Regions from separate parts of the Homo sapiens genome. Here regions 1, 2, 3 and 5 are each reported to be linked to region 4. The links are microRNA targets in miRTarBase. Many come from high-throughput screens and were not tested one by one. Region 4 holds a microRNA gene; each other region holds the end of a gene's coding sequence.

Region 1 (4,066 bases), not on the chromosome of region 4:
TCGATCGAGTTTATCTAGTCTTCATAAGATGTTCCCAGTTTTCTACTTATCTTATACAGTCTTAATAATTTCATTTTTGATTTTTAGGCAATGAATGGCTACTTCAAGGACAGATAGCAGCTGGAGATATAGAGAACATTTCCAGTCAACCAACAATTTCACTACAAATTCCTGATGATTGCTTATCACTTGAAGCCATTGTATCTGTCAGTGTGTTTCTTTATTACTGTAGTGCAGACAGCAGTGCTTGTATGATGAAGGCAATTTTGTTCAGTCAGCCTTTACAAATAACGGATACACAGCAAGGTTGCATAGCTCCAGTAGAGCTCAGGTATGTATTTTAGCCAGCCAGCTAGCTAGCAACCCATTGCCACCACCTACTGTCTCCCATCCTGACTATCACTGTAATTTAAGGAAAGAAAACTTCAGTTCTGCCTCTGGATACCAAGATGCCCATTGCTCAGTTCAGACAACTGATATTAAAATAAAGCTATGCTCCTTACTTACTTCTTTTATTATAAACAAATTCCTTTGCTTTGGCTGATACTAGCTGAGTCATTGATCATCATTGGTACCATGATATTGTAATCTATGCTGCTATTTGGCACAAGACTGAAGTTCACACTACAGTAGAGAATACTATAAGATAATTTGCAATAAATACTGATAATAATAATACCAGATATTTTAACTAACTTTTTCTACCTTTATTAATAGCAATCAGCACACTTGAATGTGTAAATTTCACAGTAACTTTAGGCAGAACTTAAGCTCCAGGCCACATTTGTATAAGAACACCAAGTATTCAAGGCATAAAGTCTGTTGTAAGCCAAAAAAAAGTCTTTTCATCACTGTAGAAGCTTAAGGAGTACATCAGTGGTAAATACGATCTTTATTCTCTTCTGTGGTTTTCTCAGTTGAGATATTTTTAAAAGAGAGTTTTGATCTATTTTTATTATAAATTATTTGTTATTTAACATACCATTATGAATGCCTTAAAACTTTGTACAGATAAAGTTGGACATAGAATCTCTAAGGACTGACTCCTTTAACTGTTTTTGAGTGACTACATTACCAGATAATGAATGAGTCCCCAGAAATATTATGACTTTCAAGGAAAAAGGGACTTTAGGACACATTACTTAGTGTCTGTGATAAATAATTTATTGTGACAGCTAAATCTGATGGTTACATATCTTGTTTTGGAAATGTACATTTCACTTGTAAGCATTAAATGCAGATTTGTTGAGTTTAGGTTTTGAGGTTTTTTTCGTTCCCATATTCAGAATTTAAATTATGATCATTTATTGTGATGTTTTTAAAAATCACTTTTAAGCCTTAAAAGTGAAATTTTCAGTGTGAGGTGCTTTCATGCTATTAATAGATACAGTATATCCTAATATATTAGTCTTCAAAATATTAAGGCCGAAACAGTGATTTAATGATACTATTTTTTAATTTTTGTTGTTTTTTATCCCTAAAAAAAGATATTGGAAAGGTTTTTTTTCTATTGTCATAATTTATAACTACTTAAAAGCCTAATCTTGTTTTCCTTAAGACCTATTCAACATGTTTGTGATTTAATCAGCTTACAAGGGTTTAAAAACATCAGGTGAACCATGTTTATTTATTCAGTAAATATTTATAGACAATATGGCATAATATGCTTCCCTTCCCTGTAAAAACAGTGCTAAATTTGAAGTGTAATCTTTTTTAAACATCATTGTCTATTTTTAATTTTGTTTGAAATGTAGTATTAGTTTGTTTTATTCATAAGGTTAGCTGAATCTCTGAAGTAAGGATGTATAAATCATGACATTGATTTAATTAGTCATCTACTGAAGCTACTTTTAAAGAGAAATATAGATATAAAATTAAAAGGAATCCTGTTTAAAATTATATGTAATTACCTCATAAACCTTTTCTCTCCACAAGCAATCAAAAAAATGAAATGTTCTGTAATAAAAGGGTGTATAACATACTCTCTTTTATGAGAATAGGCCTTAGTTATTTTATTTTATTTTTGAGACGTAGTCTGGCTCTGTAGCCCAGGCTGGGAGGGCAGTGGCGCGATCTTGGCTCACTGCAACCTCTACCTCCTGGGTTCAAGAGATTTTCCTGCCTCAGCCTCCCAAGTAGCTGGGATTACAGGCGTACACCACCATGCCCAGCTAATTTTTTTGTGTTTTTAGTAGAGACAGGGTTTCACCATGTCAGTCAGGCTGGTCCCAAACTCCTGGCCTCAGGTGATCCGCCTGCCTCTGTCTCCCAAAGTGCTGGGATTACAGGTGTGAGCCACCTTGCCCTACTGGCCTTAGTTAATTTTTAATCTCATTTGACTTATTATGTTTCTCATTTCTAGATGGACAGGATGAGAATATTTTGGCCCAATCATTTTCTGTTTAAGGACTTAAACAATTTCACACTCTAAATGAAGTATATACAATTTTAATTTACTAATTTAGAAATATCTGAGTTTATTTTTCAATATAATATACAAACACAGTGTTTGTTATACATGTTCATGTACAGTGAAAATGCAAAGGCATTTTTTAGACTCTATTCCCCTTCATTTGTCTAGACAGTTTTAGGTTAGCCTTAGCTTATACTTTTCTTGACTTTCAAAATACAGTTTTATTGAACATTCTTATTCTTACCCACTGCCAGTCTGCATTGTTTTTTACATTAAAAGTATTATTTATAGTAGACTAATATGATTTTGAATAAAATCACACTTAAGCAATATAGATAGGTTCCTAGAATTTATGACGAGGATAAACCTCTCACATAAGAGGAAGCACTAGAAAGTTTATTTTTAAAACTTGTTGATCCATATTCTATAAGGACTAATGCATATTTTTTATCTTTTGCTTTTCTTGTTGGATAAATTATTATGTCCAGTGATAGTTTAAAAAGAACAAGATTTTAGTGTAAGTCACCTCACTTGAAATGCCAGTAATGTGGTATTACACACATTTTATATAATACCTGGAATCTTTGCCCTAAATTATTCTGCTGGTTTGTCGCTATTTTTTTCCTCTCCTCTTTATTATTTCACAAATGGTAGAATTTCTTGATATGATTCTTGTAAAGAGTTTAGCTTATCTTGAACATTCTGTCTTAAGCAAATATTTAACAAGAGAAAACTTTGTAGTTTAATCACCCATAAGTGTAACTTTAGCAAAATTCAATGACTATGAAAAATAATTTTTTTCTTAACTGTTCTAATAATATTTAGTTATAATATTATCAAACCTTCAGAAAGTTATAAATCCTAACAGCCAGAAAAAAAAATTTACTATGTGTATATTTATATAGGTGTGTGTATACACAAAGATTAAGAATTATTCATGATTCTTTTATGGCCAATATACTTTTGAGCTTGTATAACTGAGATAAGTTACTCTTTGCTTGTTTTTCTGTAGTTGGAAAATTTAGGAAGTTATTAAAAATACATATCTCTATAATGTAATAGTTTTCTGCCTGCACAAAGTTTACTATTAATTTATGTCTACCAGTTAAAAATACGATAGTTAGATTTGGCATCACGTTTAACCACAATCATCAAAATCTACTTAAATTCTATAGTTAACAGTTACATAAGAATATATGCAGAGGGAAAATGTCAATAGTTCTTGTGAATGAAGGAATTATGGATGTTTTTATTTTAATTCTACTTTGCTGTTTTTTTTTTCTTTTCAGTGAGCAATCTGTTATTTTTAAAATCACGGTGGGGGGAAACCCATAAAGTTTAAAGAGTTAAAGTTAACTGAATCGTAAGCACTTATATAATAACTTTTTAAAAGTCATTTTTATTACCAGAGCTCAGAACATTGTTTGGAGTCCTTTGATCTACCGGTTCTCTTAAGTACGTGATTTCGTGAAGATAGCAATGGTTATGGCTTTTTTGTTCTGTTATTTTTATTGTGTAACGTAGTGTAGTGGTTAAGAGCTTGGATTTTGCAGTAACTTGGATTCTAATCCTTTAAAATGGGGCTGATATACCTGCCTCATATTCAATGAAATATTGTGTGTACAGCACTTAGTAATTAATGAAACTGGTAAT
Region 2 (4,066 bases), not on the chromosome of region 4:
TGTATATGACTGGGTATTACTTAGAAAAAAAAACATGTAAGTTTTGGTTGGTGTTTAGAAAGTCACCATGTTTGAGTGCTACAGGATTTGGGAACAGATAGCTATTCACTGGCTTGGTTCTGTCTTTCTAGGAATATTACTGTCTTTCACATCCTGTTTTGTTTTCTTCCCTCCTAGTTGTGGCAATTTATGACTATACAAAAGACAAGGAAGATGAGCTGTCCTTTCAGGAAGGAGCCATTATTTATGTCATCAAGAAGAATGACGATGGTTGGTATGAGGGAGTTATGAATGGAGTGACTGGGCTTTTTCCTGGGAATTACGTTGAGTCTATCATGCATTATTCTGAGTAAAGCTCAGCAGGGCTGTGCTTGCCTCACAGGAATAGTCAGGTCTTCCCAGATTATCTGAAGGCCCTGGGGATTCCACTCCAGTAAAGTAGAATGAAGGATACAAATGATAAAAATTACACTTTTTTTTTTGGTTTATTCCCCAGTATTAAAAACAAAGCAAGCTGAGTCTGAACAAATGGATCTTTCTGCCATCATTTGTACAATGCTGAGCTGTCTGGATTGAAATAAAATGACCATTTTTATGTATGTCAAAGGTATAACAGCATAACTGTGTAGCCAAAACAAAATCAGATTAAGACTGATTCAGAAAAATCTGGGATCTTTCTCAGGAATACTGTATACCCTTGGGATTTCTCCTCCTGCAGAATCTGTGGCATTGGATGTTCTTCATTGCCTGTGCTAAGGGGTTAACCTCATGGCCCAGTGGGTACCCTAGCCCCTTCTTTTCTTCCACTTGTATGAAGAGGAGGGAACCAACATTTAAATACCACACTTAACCATTTTTACAATTATTTCAGATGGCTTTTTTCCTCTGTGACACTGTAAATTCTGCATTCTCTCAGCACTTGAGTGCACCAAACGAGTGAATGCTGAACTCACTTGCATCCCTTCATGTTTCTGTTTGTGGATTATAAGGATGATGAAATGTGAAAGTCTCCCAACACTCTGAGGGTGGTGAACGATTGCCACCCGTTTGATTTTAATGTGCTGCTGCATGAGACTGCATTGTTGCTAATGGCCAGTGTACCCAGATGTGAAGTGTGGTAGGCTGGTTCATATGTGGAGGTGGGTGTGTGAAGCTAGACACGAAGGTCCCTAAGGTTCTGAAGAGACTTGAACTGTGGAAATGCTCTTAGCAGGCATCCCGAACCCCTGCTTCGGTGCTGTTTTGAGGAGTAGGATCTTGGAGTTCAGACCAACTATGACTATCATTTCCTTCACTATCTAGAAAAACGCTATTCTACTTTGGAAGAGAATAGTAGTTATTTTCAAGTCTCCTGACAGTCACTGGGAGTACAAGGTTTGCTAATGTGCTCTCTGGACGTTATTAATGGCCAGTATTAGTTGCTGCTGTATTACTGACTCGCTTAGCTGTAGAAAGGGTAATACTCTCCTGATTTTGTATGATTGGACTCTTAAGTAGCTGCTGTTAGTCAGAATTAAAACCCATCTCAGACTAAGAATATAATGAATAAGATTAATAGGCCAAAATATGTATCTAATCACATTGATAAAAATTAATATAACTGACACAATAAAACACATTTCCCCCATCTGTACAATAAATACAGCTTCAAATTCAGTGGAGTCTGTAGGGCAGATAACTTTAATCATCACTACTGTAGTCAGTATAAGAAATGCTGAAAAAAATCCAGGAGGGCTTGTCTCTTTGTGGGTGGTCACTGTGATGTTGGGCCAGCTCCTGTTCAGGTCCAGAGCTGCTAACGTGGGTTCTACTCAGTCCCAGTGACTTGGCCAGAATAGAGCTTTGCCAGGTAACTGCCCTGTGCTAGGTGAAAGGGGAAAAGCAGTAGCTGGATATATTTCAAATGAGGTTTTGAACAAGTTCAGAAAGTGGAACTTGATTGAAAAGTGAACAAGTGTAGTAGTGTGTGAGAAAATTCAGATGGTGTCGGATGCAGAAGTTAATATTCCACTTAATGTTATCTGAGCATTAAAAATCATCAGCATTTAACTGAGACCCCACTATAGAGTTTCCTTATCAAGACTTTTTGGTTTTAAAGTTGTTTTTAATGCATTGCAAGTTACAATAGCTATTTTGCTTTTAGATTTTTCCCAGCACTTTGTATTTATTAGCTTTCATTAACTTGCCTCCAGTATACATTCCACTTCGTGCTTTTCTTAGGTCATTTCTACATCCCTTATTCCTTGTTTTCCTGCAGTGTAATGGCCCTGAATGTCCTCTGAGCCTTCAGCTCCATTATGGACCCAAACTAGACTATACTTGGATAAGTTAAGCTCTTCTTCGTGTACTGGTCTATAATTAGAAAAACTGTTTTAAATTAGATGTTCCCATTATTTATTTAAACAGCTTTTTGCTGAGAAAGCTTAGTGGATTAATGAGGCAGAGGGTGTTTTGAAATCCAATAAATAGTTCCCACAGGCTGGGTGTGGTGGCTTATGCCTGTAATCCCAGCACTTTCGGAGGCCGAGGTGGGTGGATCATGAGGTCAATAAATTGAGACCATCCTGGCCAACATGGTGAAACCCCATCTCTACTAAAAACACAAAAATTAGCTGGGCGTGGTGGCGCACACCTGTAGTCCCAGCTACTTGGGAGGCTGAGGCAGGAGAATCACTGGAACCTGGGAGGCAGAGGTTGCAGTGAGCCGAGATTGTGCCACTGCACTCCAGCCTGGTGACAGAGCGAGACTCCATCAAAAAAAAAAAAAAAAAGTTCCCACAGCTCACCACTACAGAAGCAGGGAAGACAACTATGCAGAAAACAGAGTTAGTGGCGGTCAGCAGGAATGCAGCTGGTCTTTTGGACCCCTACGGGATGGGGGCAGTGCAGAAGACACTGGTGAAGTCCTTTATACTGAAGACCTGTGGTTGGGAGCAGGGGTAGTCCATGGGTCTGCTGATTTTTTTTCCCTATTTAGTACTAATGTGTGTGTGATCTTTGTTTTACAAACAGTACCTTTTGGGTTTTCTGCATATTTTATAATTTTTGTACAGTTTTGAATTCTATAGATTGTCTTGGAAGGATACTGTGTGATGGGTCAGGCACACAGTAATTGGAGACTTTTAATGTATGTAATATTTCATAGATTGCATGCTATTAATCATCTGTGAGGGTAGTATTTTTTGTTTTATTGTAAGTTTCCCTCTTTTTTTATAAATTAAAAGATGGTTGGTATTAGGAATTTCAAATGAATGCAGAAAATCTTACATGCTGTGTACTATTAATATTATAACAGACGATCCAAGTCCAAAATCTGACCAATAAAGCAACCATTTTATCAAGATAGAGGGATTCTAATGGGAGAGGGGATTCTTCCCTCCTGAAGTTTGTGTGTCCAGTCCCCTTAAAAAAAATGAATAGTTGTCTTTTCTTGTCATATTAATACTCGAAAGTCCATGGTGGTATTAATGAAAGTACACTTTATTGTTGCCTTTGAACTTACGGCCAAGGCAATAAATCAGAAACAAAAATAGTGCCAATGTGTCAAAATCGACATCTGAGAGATTCAGCCTCCCATTTGGAATAAATATGAATCTTCTAAGCTATCTTGTTTAATATTTTCCATCATTTAGCTACTTCCTATCTCCCTCAGAGGCGCCTGCTGTTCCCATTTTAGAGTTGACAGTGGCCTGCTAATTTTGCTATGTTCCTAAAAGTTACTGGGTGTGAGACATTTTCATCCCCTCCTTTTTCCTACTGCTGGTGTTTATTATCCAGCTAGACAATATTTTATGCATATTTACCGTGATGTCTGGACCGTACCTGTGCTCCTTGGCAGTTTATGTTGAAGATAACTAAAGATTTTTCTCTTTGGGAGGCATCAAAATGATGGTAGTTTGCTTTTATCTTTTTATGTTCATTTTCTTTTAGTAGGTGACCTTTCTGCATTAAGAACTGTTTTTATCTTTTACTACCTTTTCTTTTCTCCTTTGTGGAGACAGCATGACATGTCCTGAAGGTCACCTTTGCCTTTGAAAAAGGTTTGATGGAGGAATTCACAGGTGAC
Region 3 (4,066 bases), not on the chromosome of region 4:
TCTGGCCTCTAGCAACCACTCCCACTTGTTCCGTTTGACTCTTCCTCACTGCAGTTGAGCCACACCAGCCTACTTGCTGTTCCTCCAATACCATAAGCATATTCCAGCCTAAGGCTCTTGTACTTGCTGTGCCCCCTGCCTGATGGGATGTTTTCACGTACTTGGATAGCTTGGTCCCACGTATCATTTAGTTTTCTACACAAATAGGACCTCCTTAGAAACGCCTTCCAGAGCATCTTTTTTTTTTTTTTTTTTTTTTTTGAGACAGAGCCTCACCCTGTCACCCAGGCTGGAGTGCAGTGGCACAATCTCAGCTTACTGTAACCTCCACCTCCCAGGTTCAAGCAATTCTCCCACCTCAGCCTCCCCAGTAGCTGGGATTACAGATTACAGGTGTGCACCACCAGGCCCAGCTAAATTTTGTATTTTTAGTAGAGACAGGATTTTGCCATGTTGGCCAGGCTGGTCTTGAACTCCTGATCTCAGGTGATCCGCCTGCCTCAGCCTCCCAAAGTGTTGGGATTACAGGTGTGAGCCACTGTGCCTGGCCCTAGAGCATCTCTTGACATTCCCTATTCCCATTCCATACTCCCTGTATGTTTCTTTATGGTGCTACATTACCCCTCACCCTGTGGCATTCCCATATCCTATTCCATATTCCCTGTATGTATGTTTCTCTATGGTGCTACATTACCCCTCACCCTGTGGCATGTTACGTGTAGTATTTGTTTGCTGTCTGTATGTCTTCACCTGCGGTATAATCCTTGTGAGGCAGGGACTTCTGTCTCAGTCACCACTGTATGTCTGTACCTAGATTAGTGCCTTGAACATAGCAGGTGCTTAACAAATCCTTTTTGACTGAATAAACGAAATTCACTCTAAAAGAACTCTATGTCACTGTGTCTTCTTTTAGTGAATCCGATGTGCCTGATGGGTTAGATTTCCATATACAAGTAGCAGAGGAAAATCTGGGAACAGGGTGATTCCACAGGATTCTGAAATGTCCAAATTCCTGAAAGGAAGATGAGGAAGAAAGTCCTACTTGTGTAACTGAGAAGCGTGTGGTGTAAGAATCGACCTGCCTTTTCCTTATTCCTTATTCTGATTTTATGTAATAGGGAATAGTGGCACTTAGCCCTGCTATGAGAGGTTATTTATTTATTTATTTATTTATCTTTTTTTAAAAAAATTCAGAGTTTCCCTTGTGAGACAGTTTTCTTTCTTCTAAAATATAAGCCACATTAACTTATTAGTATGAGAGAGACCTGCCTCTGGGGAACATCAGACCATTTGTTTCTGAGTGTATGCAAGAGGATCAATTGTTCTTCATAATGGATAACACACTTAATAAGTTTAAATATTTTATTTTAGGAAAGGTACTCTTAGATTTGTGTTAATGTTGTTTTCTGTATTAACAAATTAGTCACAATCAACTTCGATATAGCCATTGATTCTTCTTTCTAAATCTGTATAAAAAGGATATTTTCTTGAAAAACCACAAGAAAAATACAACTGCTTTTTCATTGCCCAGGTCAGTTACTCGCTACAGTCAGACTGCATTTAAATTAGACTGGCATCTAATACTTTTGAGTATTTACAAATATAATTAAAACTATACTCCTAGACCACCAGCTTTCAAAAAAGTTGGATCTGCTTGACTTGCAATAAATATGTACCAAACATGAATAATTTCTAAGCCGCTTATGAGGAGGTTTTAAAAATTACTAACATTTATTAAGCAGTTTGTGTGTCAGGCATATTGTGAGTGCTTTGCTTTATACAAATTCACTTACTTTTTTCAGAATTCCTTTGAGGTAGGGTAGGTACTTTTAGAAATGCCATTTTACATGTGAAAAGTGAGGTTGGAAGAGCCTCAGTAACCTGCCCAGGGCCACACAGCTAGAAGGTGAGCCAGCACTTGAGCCACGTTTCTCTTTCCAGCCAGATTCTCAGCACTCAGCTGTGCTGCTGGTGGTCACAGCTGGCTGACTGGACCAGGAAGAACCTTTTAGTGTCAGGCGTGTGAATCACAGCACTTGGGACAGGTTACCAAGAACCATGATCACTTAATTTTTATATTTATACATGTACATTTGTATATACATAGAGAAAGTGCAGGCAAAACCATTATACAGTTACTCTAATAGCCATTTGCTACTGCCAGCAGTCTCAGGACTGATCCCTGTCTAAGCTGGCAAGTTTACATTCTCCTTGTATCACTACAGGATTTGCTCTGGACAGGAGCTGTAACTCCTCAACAAATCCTGCTTTCAGTCTACTACTGCACAGCTTGAATTGTTCAGTAGGCCCAGCTTTTTGTGAAAGAAAAGGCCTTGCCATGGTATAAAGAGTTTTTTTCCCTCTATAAAAGATGTAAAATTTTTGGCTGGGTGCAGTGGCTCACGCCTGTAATCCCAGCACTTTGGGAGGCCGAGACGGGCAGATCATGAGGTCAGGAGATCAAGACCATCCTGGCTAACACGGTGAAATCCCGTCTCTACTAAAAATACAAAAAATTAGCTGTGCGTGATGGCATGCGCCTGTAGTCACAGCTACTTGGGAGGCTGAGGCAGGAGAATCGCTTGAAACTGGGAGGCGGAGGTTGCAGTGAGCCGAGATGACGCCACTGCATTCCAGCCTGGCAACAGAGTGAGACTCTGTCTCAAAAACAAAAACAAAAACAAAAAAAGATGTAAAATTTTCATTAGGTATTTTCAGAAAGTCTTAGTGCTGTTTCTATACCTTTTATATGCTAGTCAATGTCAGTAGAAAAAAATGGAACATCCATTTCATTCTCCTGGGCGATTTCTGGACCAGTTAGCCTTGATTACTAGCAGTGGTATGCTGGTAAATGTTTAACCACTGGCTCTCCGGGATCTGTAGCTTTTGCCAGTGTCCATGGTAATACTCCCACCAGGCTGATTTCAAGCTACCAACATGCTATCACGAAGAGTGGAGTTGAGACAAGGTGCACAGTAGCACACCATCATATATAGTAATTCCACCACACAGGTACCATGGACGTAAATTACCTCAAGAGCATCAAGATCAAATTAGGAAGTGATATGCTTTGAATATTTATTACCTTTGTTTTAAATGTAATTGATTTAATTATAAGTTTGTATGATTTGATTTTTAATAATGGCTGCATTTAATAACCAGCTGTCAAAATGAAAATTTTACAATCAGCTTTTCTAAGTTGGTATGAGCCAGCTTAGCATACCACTACATTAGTATACCAAAGAGAGCAAGATTCAACTTTTCCTTTTGGTGTTTGAGAATATAGATAAGCTATTGATGTCTGCAGCAGGAATTTAAGAGACTTTGGACTATTAAGTGAAAAGCACGAAAATCCTTTGAGCATGCCAGGGAATAACTTGCAGCTTGTTTTGCTTAAATTGAAATATATCTACATATAGCAATGATCATGGAGCTTTACAATTTCAACCTATTTTTACAAACTTCAATGAAGAATGATCTCAAACCCAGAGTATGGTCCATGCATGAGGTGACAAATGGAGTGAAGCGCGCGGCTGTCTCCTTCCTTCCCATCTGGGTATCTGGACAGCTCTTACCAACAGTCTGAACCAGGGAAGAAGATAACTTGAGAAGCCAGGTAAACTTCTAATGATTTTGACCAGGTACCAGGACTCAATTTAATTTCCTCTACCCAACCAAGTTTTAGTGGAGAAGACTTGAATAGCCATTGAGAGAGCGCCTCCACCACCACCCAGCTTTCTGAAACAGTATGGTCGTGCTGGTGATCAAGAGGCTGAAAGTCTTCTCTTGCCTTCTTCACCCAGTTTTACCTCTGGTAGCACTCAGAGTTTTCCATTCCAATTGATCTGTCTTGGGTAGGAACTACAAAAGAAAAACAAAACAGGTAGCATGTTTCAGCAGCTCTGATGAGTTGCAGTGATGATTCATTCTGAGAGCTTACCCAGGCTGTTTGTTTCTCTGCCATTCTGTGGCTCTAGAGGGAGCAAAGTGAAAAGTCAGACCCCCTAGTTCTGGCGAACAGTTGGTGGAGGCAGTTTCCTGAGACTGCTGTCTAGGGCTTGGGGAA
Region 4 (4,000 bases):
CAGCCTCCAGGCTGCTGAACCACATTGTCCAGCATTTATTAACTTCAGTGTATACAATTCAGCAGATCTGTTTCCCAAGTATAGCAGAGAAAGTATAGAGGAGCAATGTAATGGAAATGCACACATCAAAGTGGCTTTTAGCAAATGTGAAGCTCTTGTTACCTGCAGTGAATAAAATCTGGCACAGGGTTATGTTGGCTGAAGGAGGCCGCATCAAGGTTCATGCAGATCTCGACATTGTCACCTGCCATGATTCGCACTGCAGCCTTGTTCTCATCCTCAAAAATCTGCCGTTGTAAGGAGGCACACAGAAGCAGCATGAAGTCATCTAACAAGACAGAGGTGAGATCATTAAGCCGCCTCATCCTCTTCTGATTTACATAATGCAACACACAGTCATCACACAGCAACAGCCATTCCCCAGCTCCTAAGTGAGTTGTGTTCCCAAAGTTCATAGTAAAATTCATCCTGGAGTCCAATGTCGGGGCCAAGTCACACCTTCTCCACCTTGCAGGGCATAGAGTGACCACAGACACTCCAGGAGCTTACGTGGGGAGTCTCTGAATTTTGTTTGCACATCGGTGAGAGAAATATTAGGTGCTACTTACTAGTCTTCATGAGTCTCTTAGAGGGTAACATTTTTGTGTGTGTGTGTGTGAGACAGAGTCTCGCTCTGTCGCCCAGGCTGGAGTGCAGTGGTGCGATCTTGGCTCACTGCAAGCCCCACCTCCTGGGTTCACACCATTCTCCTGCCTCAGCCTCCCAAGTAGCTGGGAATACAAGTGCCCGCCACCATGCCTGGCTAATTTTTTTTACCTCCCACCAGTTTTAAGGAGGCCACTTGAGCAATTTCCCCATCTTTATCTTTTTATGTGTGGTGGATGCAGACATTCATTTTTCTTTATCCTTTCCATCCTCCTTTGCATTTGTAACCAAAGACTGTCCCCAAAGCAGAAGCCACACTGCAAGTGTGGTGAGAGCAGGTGGAGGTGGTGGACTGTGCTGGACAGCACAGCGCAGCCTGAGAGAGCTGTCCTCCCAGCAACTGCCCACAAAGGGCTGAGGCCAAGCCTGCCTGGAAGCCTGAACACAAGCTGCTTCCTTGCTTTTAAAATTAAACCTAAACTTGTTTAGGCAGGGCAGTCATTTGCATTTTCTGTAAAACCCAGCACTCTGGTCTTGGAGGAGCTGCTCTGACCTTTGGATCACCAGCTGCCATGGGAAGGCCTTGGGGCTGCAGCCCAATTCTAGAGCAACTAAAATCTGGGAAGCATCTCCCAGCATCCACTGTCCCATGTTCAGGGTTTATTTATCTGCACTGGGAGCCAGAAACCACCAAGTCAGAAAACACAAAAGCCTTCCTCTCTGGTCTGTCTTTTGAAAGGTGGCTGTGTAAATGTGTGTGTGTGTGTGTGTGTGTGTTTGTGTGTGTGTGTTGGGGGAAGTGAAATTATGCAAGTGAATATGGCATTTCCAACACTGATTTATTAATTTTGCAAATGTAATAGGGTGAGTAGAAGCCATTAATGACTTGTGATATTAATGCATAAGACAAGCCTTTACATGATTACGAAGTCTAGTGGAAGACAAAAGGCACTAATGCATAGCACGTGAACAATGATTAACAGTAAACCCGGATACCAGCACTCTGTGGCCCTGCAGTGGAAACACTTACAGACGAGAAACACAGGGTTGGGCCGCACAATGAAATCTGGGAAGTACAGCCACTTTATGATGTTGTCATTGAAGCTGGCACCCTTGAATCTCCACGGGTAATCTGCAGGGAGGGAAGTGGCGAACAGCACAATCAATACTCTTCTTCACCACTCTTCTCCCAGCCGTCCGCTCAGTAATGGCTTCTTCTAAAAGTAGACGGCTCAAGGGAAGGGCAGGCTCACCTCGGCAAGGAGCAGGTGGGATGCCAATGCAGATGAAATACTGGAAGGTGATGATGCATGCCAGGAAGCAGCAGTACTTGGGCCAGATCTCTGCGATGGCTTTCCTTCTGCGTCTATATAAGACAGCGATCAGCCAGCAGGCGTGGATCATGGCATAGAAATCCATTCGCTGGCCAATGACGTTAACTGACATTAGGAAACAGGTCTGTGTAAAGATGAAAAGAGGCAAAAAAAAAAAATCAGGCATATGGGAAAGGGGACTGGTGATAGGTGTCAGGTCTGTGTAGATGGCGGAGACCCATGTCCCTCAGGGCAAGTCTGTCTGCACAGATTCACAAATGCTTGCTCTTTTGAGTGTCTCAGCGTGAAGACAGAAATACTGTACAGATTACTCCCAGGGAAAAACTGACTAAGTAGCTGTTATCATAACCACTTCAGACAATAAAGAGAACAGCCATTTTGATCTCCTCATGAAACATCACCATTCCTACTTCATTCTATGAAGGCACAGGCACTATCACAATCGTTTTAGGTTAAAACAGTTCATTTTGGCTGCAGCTTATGGTTTCAGAATGCACAAAAAGAAAGAAGATTAATACTTTATTATTTATTTATTTTGAGATGGAATCTTGCCCTGTCACCCAGGCTAGAGTGCAGTGGTGCAAACTTGGCTCACTGCAACCTCTGCCTCCTGGGTTCAGGCAATTCTCCTGCCTCAGCCTCTCAAGTAGCTGTGATTACAGGCGTGCACCACCACGCCTGGATAATTTTTGTATTTTTAGAAGAGATGGGGTTCCACCATGTTGCCCAGGCTGGTCTCAAAGTCCTGACCTCAGAAGATCTGCCTGCCTTGGCCTCCCAAAGTGCTGGGATTACAGGCGTGAGCCACCGTGCCCAGGCAGAAGATTAATACTTTATTCTTAATAAGAAACCTGTTAACACGGCAACTGATGGCCATGCATTTAGATGGCTCTGGAGATCCAGAGAGGCCAAGGCACTGCTGTGGAGGGGGGTGTTCAGCACCCAAACTTGGAAAACTTTCAGTCAAGCCAGTTAACCATCAGTACAAATACTTTCTGTTCTTCTCAAGGGGACAGCTATCATGCCTGCAGATGTATCACAAAGTTCCAGTGGCCAATTGGCCAGAAGCAGTTCTTTGAATTTTCATGGAAAAGAGAAATAAAACATATCAGCAAGGAAACTCACCTCCAGACCAAACTTGTAAAAGAAGTAATTAATGAAATATTTGGCACAATTAATAAGTCCATCATCTAGATGTAGTCTTGTAATGTCATGAAAGATAGTTCTAGACACAGGGGCCGTCAGGTTATTTCGACCTCGATAGTATTCCTGATGGCGGTAAATGGTGACTTCAAAGGCCAGGATAGCCAGCATCAGGAGGTTATTCTACAAAGCAAGGAAACACAAATGTGTCAGCCAGAGGCTTTATGATTTGGTAATTTCAAGCAATCCCCACATTCTGCACAGCTACAAGGACAATGTTTTATAAAAGCTCACCTCTCTTAAGCAGTTTTGAGCTCAATATTCGTTTTCTCTGTCTTATTTATTGTGGCATTATCTATATTAGAAAATCAGGCTAACTTCCAAAGTCATAGGATCTAGAATCTCCAAACATAAGATGCTGCTGCTCATTCCTACTTCTCACAACTACACATCTCACACCAAGGAAGCAATTTCCAGTTATCCAAGGAGGGCAGTTCAGCCTTGTTTGCAGCCAGAAGTGCAAAAACAGTACAGAGACATCCTGGGACGCACTGAGCTAAATGAACGGGAAGCTGCTTAGGGGGAAGCTTTTGAACACTCCTGAAATCTGGCTACAGACAGCAATAGATTGAAAAGCATGCTGACAACAGTAAAATAATAATAGTGATGATATAACTATTATTCAAGATAATGAAAATAGTTAACATTTATGGAACCATAGGTTCCAGACACAATTCGATCACCCTTTTCAAATACCAATTTGCTTTATCCTCATAACAGCTATTTATGGTGGGTACTGGTACAAAAGATATCTACCATGTGATGAAAAATCTAGAAGGTCCACAAAGAAAATGGGCTGCTTAATACATTTAAAAATC
Region 5 (4,066 bases), not on the chromosome of region 4:
TTAGCTCAACAGCCATACTTTTAATTAATTCATTTATTTTTTGAGATGGAGTCTCGCTCTGTCGCCCAGGCTGGAGTGCAGTGGCGCATTTTCAGCTCACTGCAACCTCCACCTCCCAGGTTCAATTCTCCTGCCTCAGCCTCCCAAGTCACTGGGACTACCAGCGCCCACCAGCACGCCCAGCTAATTTTTTTGTTATTTTTAGTAGAGATGGGGTTTCACCATGTTGGCTGGGCTGGTCTCAAACTCCTGACCTTAGGTGATCCACTACCCGCCTCAGCTTCCCAAAGTGCTGGGATTACAGGTGTGAACCACCATGCCCGGCAACAGTTGCACTTTTTTTTTTTTTGAGACGGAGTCTTGCTCTATTTCCCAGGGTGGAGTGCAATAGCACAATCTTGGCTCAGGGCAACCTCCGCCTCCTGGGTTCAAGAGATTCTCCTGCCTCAGCCTCCTGAGTAGTTGAGACTACAGGCACGGGCCACCACGCTTAATTTTGTATTTTTAGTGGAGACAGGGTTTCATCATGTTGGTCAGGCTGAGCCACTGCGCCCGGCCCAGTTGTAGTTTTTAAATGGTACATTTCATTTGGATAAGTAGCTTTGTATTTTAAAAACCACTTAATGGCCAGGTGCAGTGGCTCACGCCTGTAATCCCAGCACCTTGGGAGGCCGAGGTGGGTGGATCACGAGGTCAGGAGATTGAGACCATCCTGGCCAACATGGTGAAACCCTGTCTCTACTAAAAATACAAAAATTTACTAGACATGGTGGCATGCATCTGTAGTCCAGCTACTCGGGAGGCTGAGGCAGGAGAATAGCTTGAACCCAGGAGGCGGAGGTTGCGGTGAGCCGAGATTGCACCACTGCACTCCAGCCTGGCGACAGGGCAAGACTCCGTCTCAAAAAAAAAAAAAAAAAAAAGCCAGACACCGTGGCTCACGCTTGTAGTCCCAGCACTTTGGGAGACTGAGGCGGGCGGATCACGAGGTGAGGAGATCGAGACCATCCTGGCCAACATGGTGAAACCCCCATCTCTACTAAAAACACAAAAAAATTAGCTGGGCATGGTGGCACGTGACTGTAATCCCAGCTACTCAGGAGGCTGAGGCAGGAGAATCGCTTGAATCTGGGAAGCAGAGGTTGCGGTGAGCCAAGTTCTCATCACTACATGTACTCCAGCCTGGCGACAGAGCAAGACTCCATCTAAAAAAAAAAAAAAAAAAAAACCACTTAATATGAAATAACTTCCATTAACTGATCATGAAATTTTGCCCTCTTTCAGATTAAGATGAAGGACACTTCAGTCACATGTTTACTGTGGCAATATAACTAGTCTGGATAATTTTATTAAATCATAGAATATACAGTCAGGAAACACTACAGCTATATTTAGCTGTTAGTTATCTCAATAAGCTACTTAATTTACTGGCAGACCAAAACAGGCATACTAAGCATTTTTATCAATTAAAAAAAGTCTTCAGTTGTTCAAGTTTCACATATACTCATAAAATTTTTAACTCGGGGGCACAGTTAACATAATTTATTGAGTGTTCTCCCTATAAAATATAAATTAACTTTTCCAAAAACATTCCTCAAAGATACTATAAACAAAAGAAATAAGGGTATATTTTATAACAGAAGAGTGTAATAGATGACCATTATGGTAAAACTAAGGTGCCATAAAAAATTTGGCCCAGCTATGAATTTCAGACCCTATGAATTTTTATGTTGAATACATTTGGCTATATTGCTAAGTGGGAAAAGGAGGAAAGTAATACCAAAATTATTGTGACCACCAATTTATAAAATCATTATTTTAAAGCTAATCGTAAAACTTCAAATGTTTAGAAAACAGTAATTTGTGGGTACTAATCGCATCTTACTATGTAACTGTAAAAGGCTATTTTCTCTTTGGTGCCCAGGCCAGCATTTTGAATACATTGCCAAAACATTTGCACTCCCTAGCTCTGACAATTCAAATACATAGGATTTTATCTATTTTACATTCCTGTTTGATAGAAATTTGAGGCAAATTTTACCCACACAGCCTGAAAAATACCTTGAAAGCAAACCTCGGTCTTCTGCATCTTCCAATTGATTCCTTTACAAACTCTGCACACATACAACTTAAGCCTCTGCTCAGGCTTATTATACCATGCACACTGCCCACAAGGAAAAAAATTAATTGAAAATAAAAGCCACAACTCTGTGTACTATTTAAACTGAATATCCAATTATAAATTGGTACATTGAAGTGTCTAAATAAGATGTTTTTAGCAATCTTGTTAAAAAAATTCTTGGGCAAAATATATCTTAATTTTTAAAAACACCCCAAGATTTTTAAAAAACACTTGTACTATACAACTTATAGTAACCTTGAAATTGGTTTACAAGGTTTTAATCAAGGTATTTACATACCAAGTAATGTAAAGCAAAAAAAAAAAAAAAAAAAAACAAAAACAAAAAACTAATTCCCAATGACATTTTAGAACATACTAATGCATCAAAGATTGTATGAAATTAAAATTAAGGCTTTTTCTGCACAATTTGTGTAATTTTAATTTTACATAGTAGCCAACCTTGGAAATGTCAGTCTTAACATTCTGATCAATCCACTGCATTCAATGCAGCGGAGTGTGTTAAGTGTTACTTCAAATAATTACATTGCTGCTACTTCTATGTTGAAGCATGCTTTTTAAACACTGTAGTTATTGAATATTTACAATATGTATCATTTAAACTTCATGTAAAAGCACAAGTATGACTGTCTGACTTCAATACAAACACCATACTTGGATTTCCCCCCAAAATGAAATGTAAAATACTACAATTTTAATAATCGACACTTTTGGAAGTTTTAAAAATATGTCTTAACGTGGACCACCAACATTTGCTCAAGTAACTCAAACAATGCTGTTCCTTTTTTAGGGTGCAAAACTTCAGTCTGGCTTCAGTTTCTTTAGGCATAGAGAAAGAAAATATTTCCTCCAAAGCGACTCCAAAATCACGCATTTCTTCTGAATATCACACTTTTTCTCTGCTGACTTCAAATGTGGTCCACCTCAGGGAAGGGGAGGGGAGTATCAGGATTCAGGATGAACTTATATGTGATTCCCAGGTTTTCACGATCCTCCCTTTTTTGCTCTTTTAAAAACACAGTGAGTTAAAATACTGAACAGCAAGATAAAAATGGAATAGTATCTAAGAATCAAAATGTATTAGCCATTTTTCCTATTATATCAAAATTTGTAGTCAGAATTGTCTTTATTGACTTTATTTTAGTTTTTGTACATAAAGAAAAATCATGTTCATATCCATCATGAACAAAAACTTAAAAAGGCAGAACTAGAAGACACGTGTCCTTCACCAAAGCAAATCTGTGCTAAAGGTTCCAAACATTTCAATTTTTAAAATAAATATTTTCATTTTCCGATGTCTACTTTCATGTCTTCAGAGTGTCACAGGAAATCGAAGCCTATCATGAATTACAATTTTTTTTTAGAGTCCCGGCTCACTGTGTTTGGTAACTTGCCATACCATATCCGGCTTGGTTAGGAGGAGGTATTACAGGGGGAGGAGCTTGTCCTTGGGGAGGCTGAGCACCAAATCCACCCATCCAAGCAGCAGAAGGTGATTGACTTGGAAGAAAAAGAAAAAATCTTCAGCAAACACAAGAAAAAAAAAATCACATATGTATTTACACAAAAATCAAGCAGAGCCTAATCACAGAATAGAAAACCAGAAATCAACACACCTACAACAAATAGAAAGATCAAAGAAATAAATGATATATGTGTAGAATACATATTCCAGTATTAGTCTTTGATATTTTTAAGATAACCACAACTTAACACACTGATGTCTGAGGAGTATCTGCAAACTAATTTTTTAAAAATTGTGAATGATTCAACACATCATCTATTACATAAGAAATTTTAAAAACAAGTTCATGTTGGAAACAGTCTCAAAGGAAGAAATCTGAAAATAAAGCTATGGGCTGGCCCTGGGCAGGGGAATTACAAAGGAGGAAACCACTCTATCAACAAAAGAAAAAAAAAAAAAAA

The links. The annotated mature microRNA hsa-miR-6788-5p reads CUGGGAGAAGAGUGGUGAAGA and lies in region 4 at 1,818-1,838, opposite strand. An mRNA with a match to its seed (bases 2 to 7 or 8) in the 3' UTR can be bound and repressed. Matches are read on the target gene's strand: a 7mer-m8 pairs with bases 2 to 8, a 7mer-A1 pairs with bases 2 to 7 and ends in A, and an 8mer does both.
Region 1: the mRNA of NHLRC2 is a reported target of hsa-miR-6788-5p. Seed matches in the 3' UTR shown: 7mer-m8 at 384-390, 7mer-A1 at 2,129-2,135 and 8mer at 2,265-2,272.
Region 2: miRTarBase lists ABI2 as a target of hsa-miR-6788-5p. Seed matches in the 3' UTR shown: 8mer at 1,008-1,015.
Region 3: the mRNA of SLC60A1 is a reported target of hsa-miR-6788-5p. Seed matches in the 3' UTR shown: 7mer-A1 at 2,557-2,563 and 7mer-A1 at 2,423-2,429.
Region 5: the mRNA of TIAL1 is a reported target of hsa-miR-6788-5p. The part of its 3' UTR that is shown has no 7-base or 8-base seed match.

What each region holds. Positions count from the first base shown.
Region 1 is chr10:113,908,193-113,912,258 of GRCh38, forward strand. It overlaps NHLRC2 (NHL repeat containing 2), which reads left to right. Exons shown (of 11, transcript NM_198514.4): 11 at 88-4,066. The coding sequence ends at 344. Among named protein-coding and RNA genes, the nearest start is that of NHLRC2, 56 kb to the left of the region's middle.
Region 2 is chr2:203,427,000-203,431,065 of GRCh38, forward strand. ABI2 (abl interactor 2) reads left to right here. Exons shown (of 12, transcript NM_001375670.1): 12 at 178-4,066. The coding sequence ends at 353. Among named protein-coding and RNA genes, the nearest start is that of ABI2, 100 kb to the left of the region's middle.
Region 3 is chr1:205,600,201-205,604,266 of GRCh38, reverse strand. It overlaps SLC60A1 (solute carrier family 60 member 1), which reads right to left. Exons shown (of 10, transcript NM_181644.5): 10 at 1,349-3,861. The coding sequence ends at 3,806. Among named protein-coding and RNA genes, the nearest start is that of ELK4, 30 kb to the left of the region's middle. RefSeq lists an enhancer at 3,103-4,066.
Region 4 is chr18:10,757,807-10,761,806 of GRCh38, forward strand. MIR6788 (microRNA 6788) reads right to left here and starts at 1,843; the gene lies at 1,778-1,843. It overlaps PIEZO2 (piezo type mechanosensitive ion channel component 2), which reads right to left. Exons shown (of 56, transcript NM_001378183.1): 24 at 3,105-3,305; 25 at 1,899-2,103; 26 at 1,676-1,777; 27 at 163-328.
Region 5 is chr10:119,572,152-119,576,217 of GRCh38, forward strand. It overlaps TIAL1 (TIA1 cytotoxic granule associated RNA binding protein like 1), which reads right to left. Exons shown (of 12, transcript NM_003252.4): 12 at 1,314-3,640. The coding sequence ends at 3,514. Among named protein-coding and RNA genes, the nearest start is that of TIAL1, 23 kb to the right of the region's middle.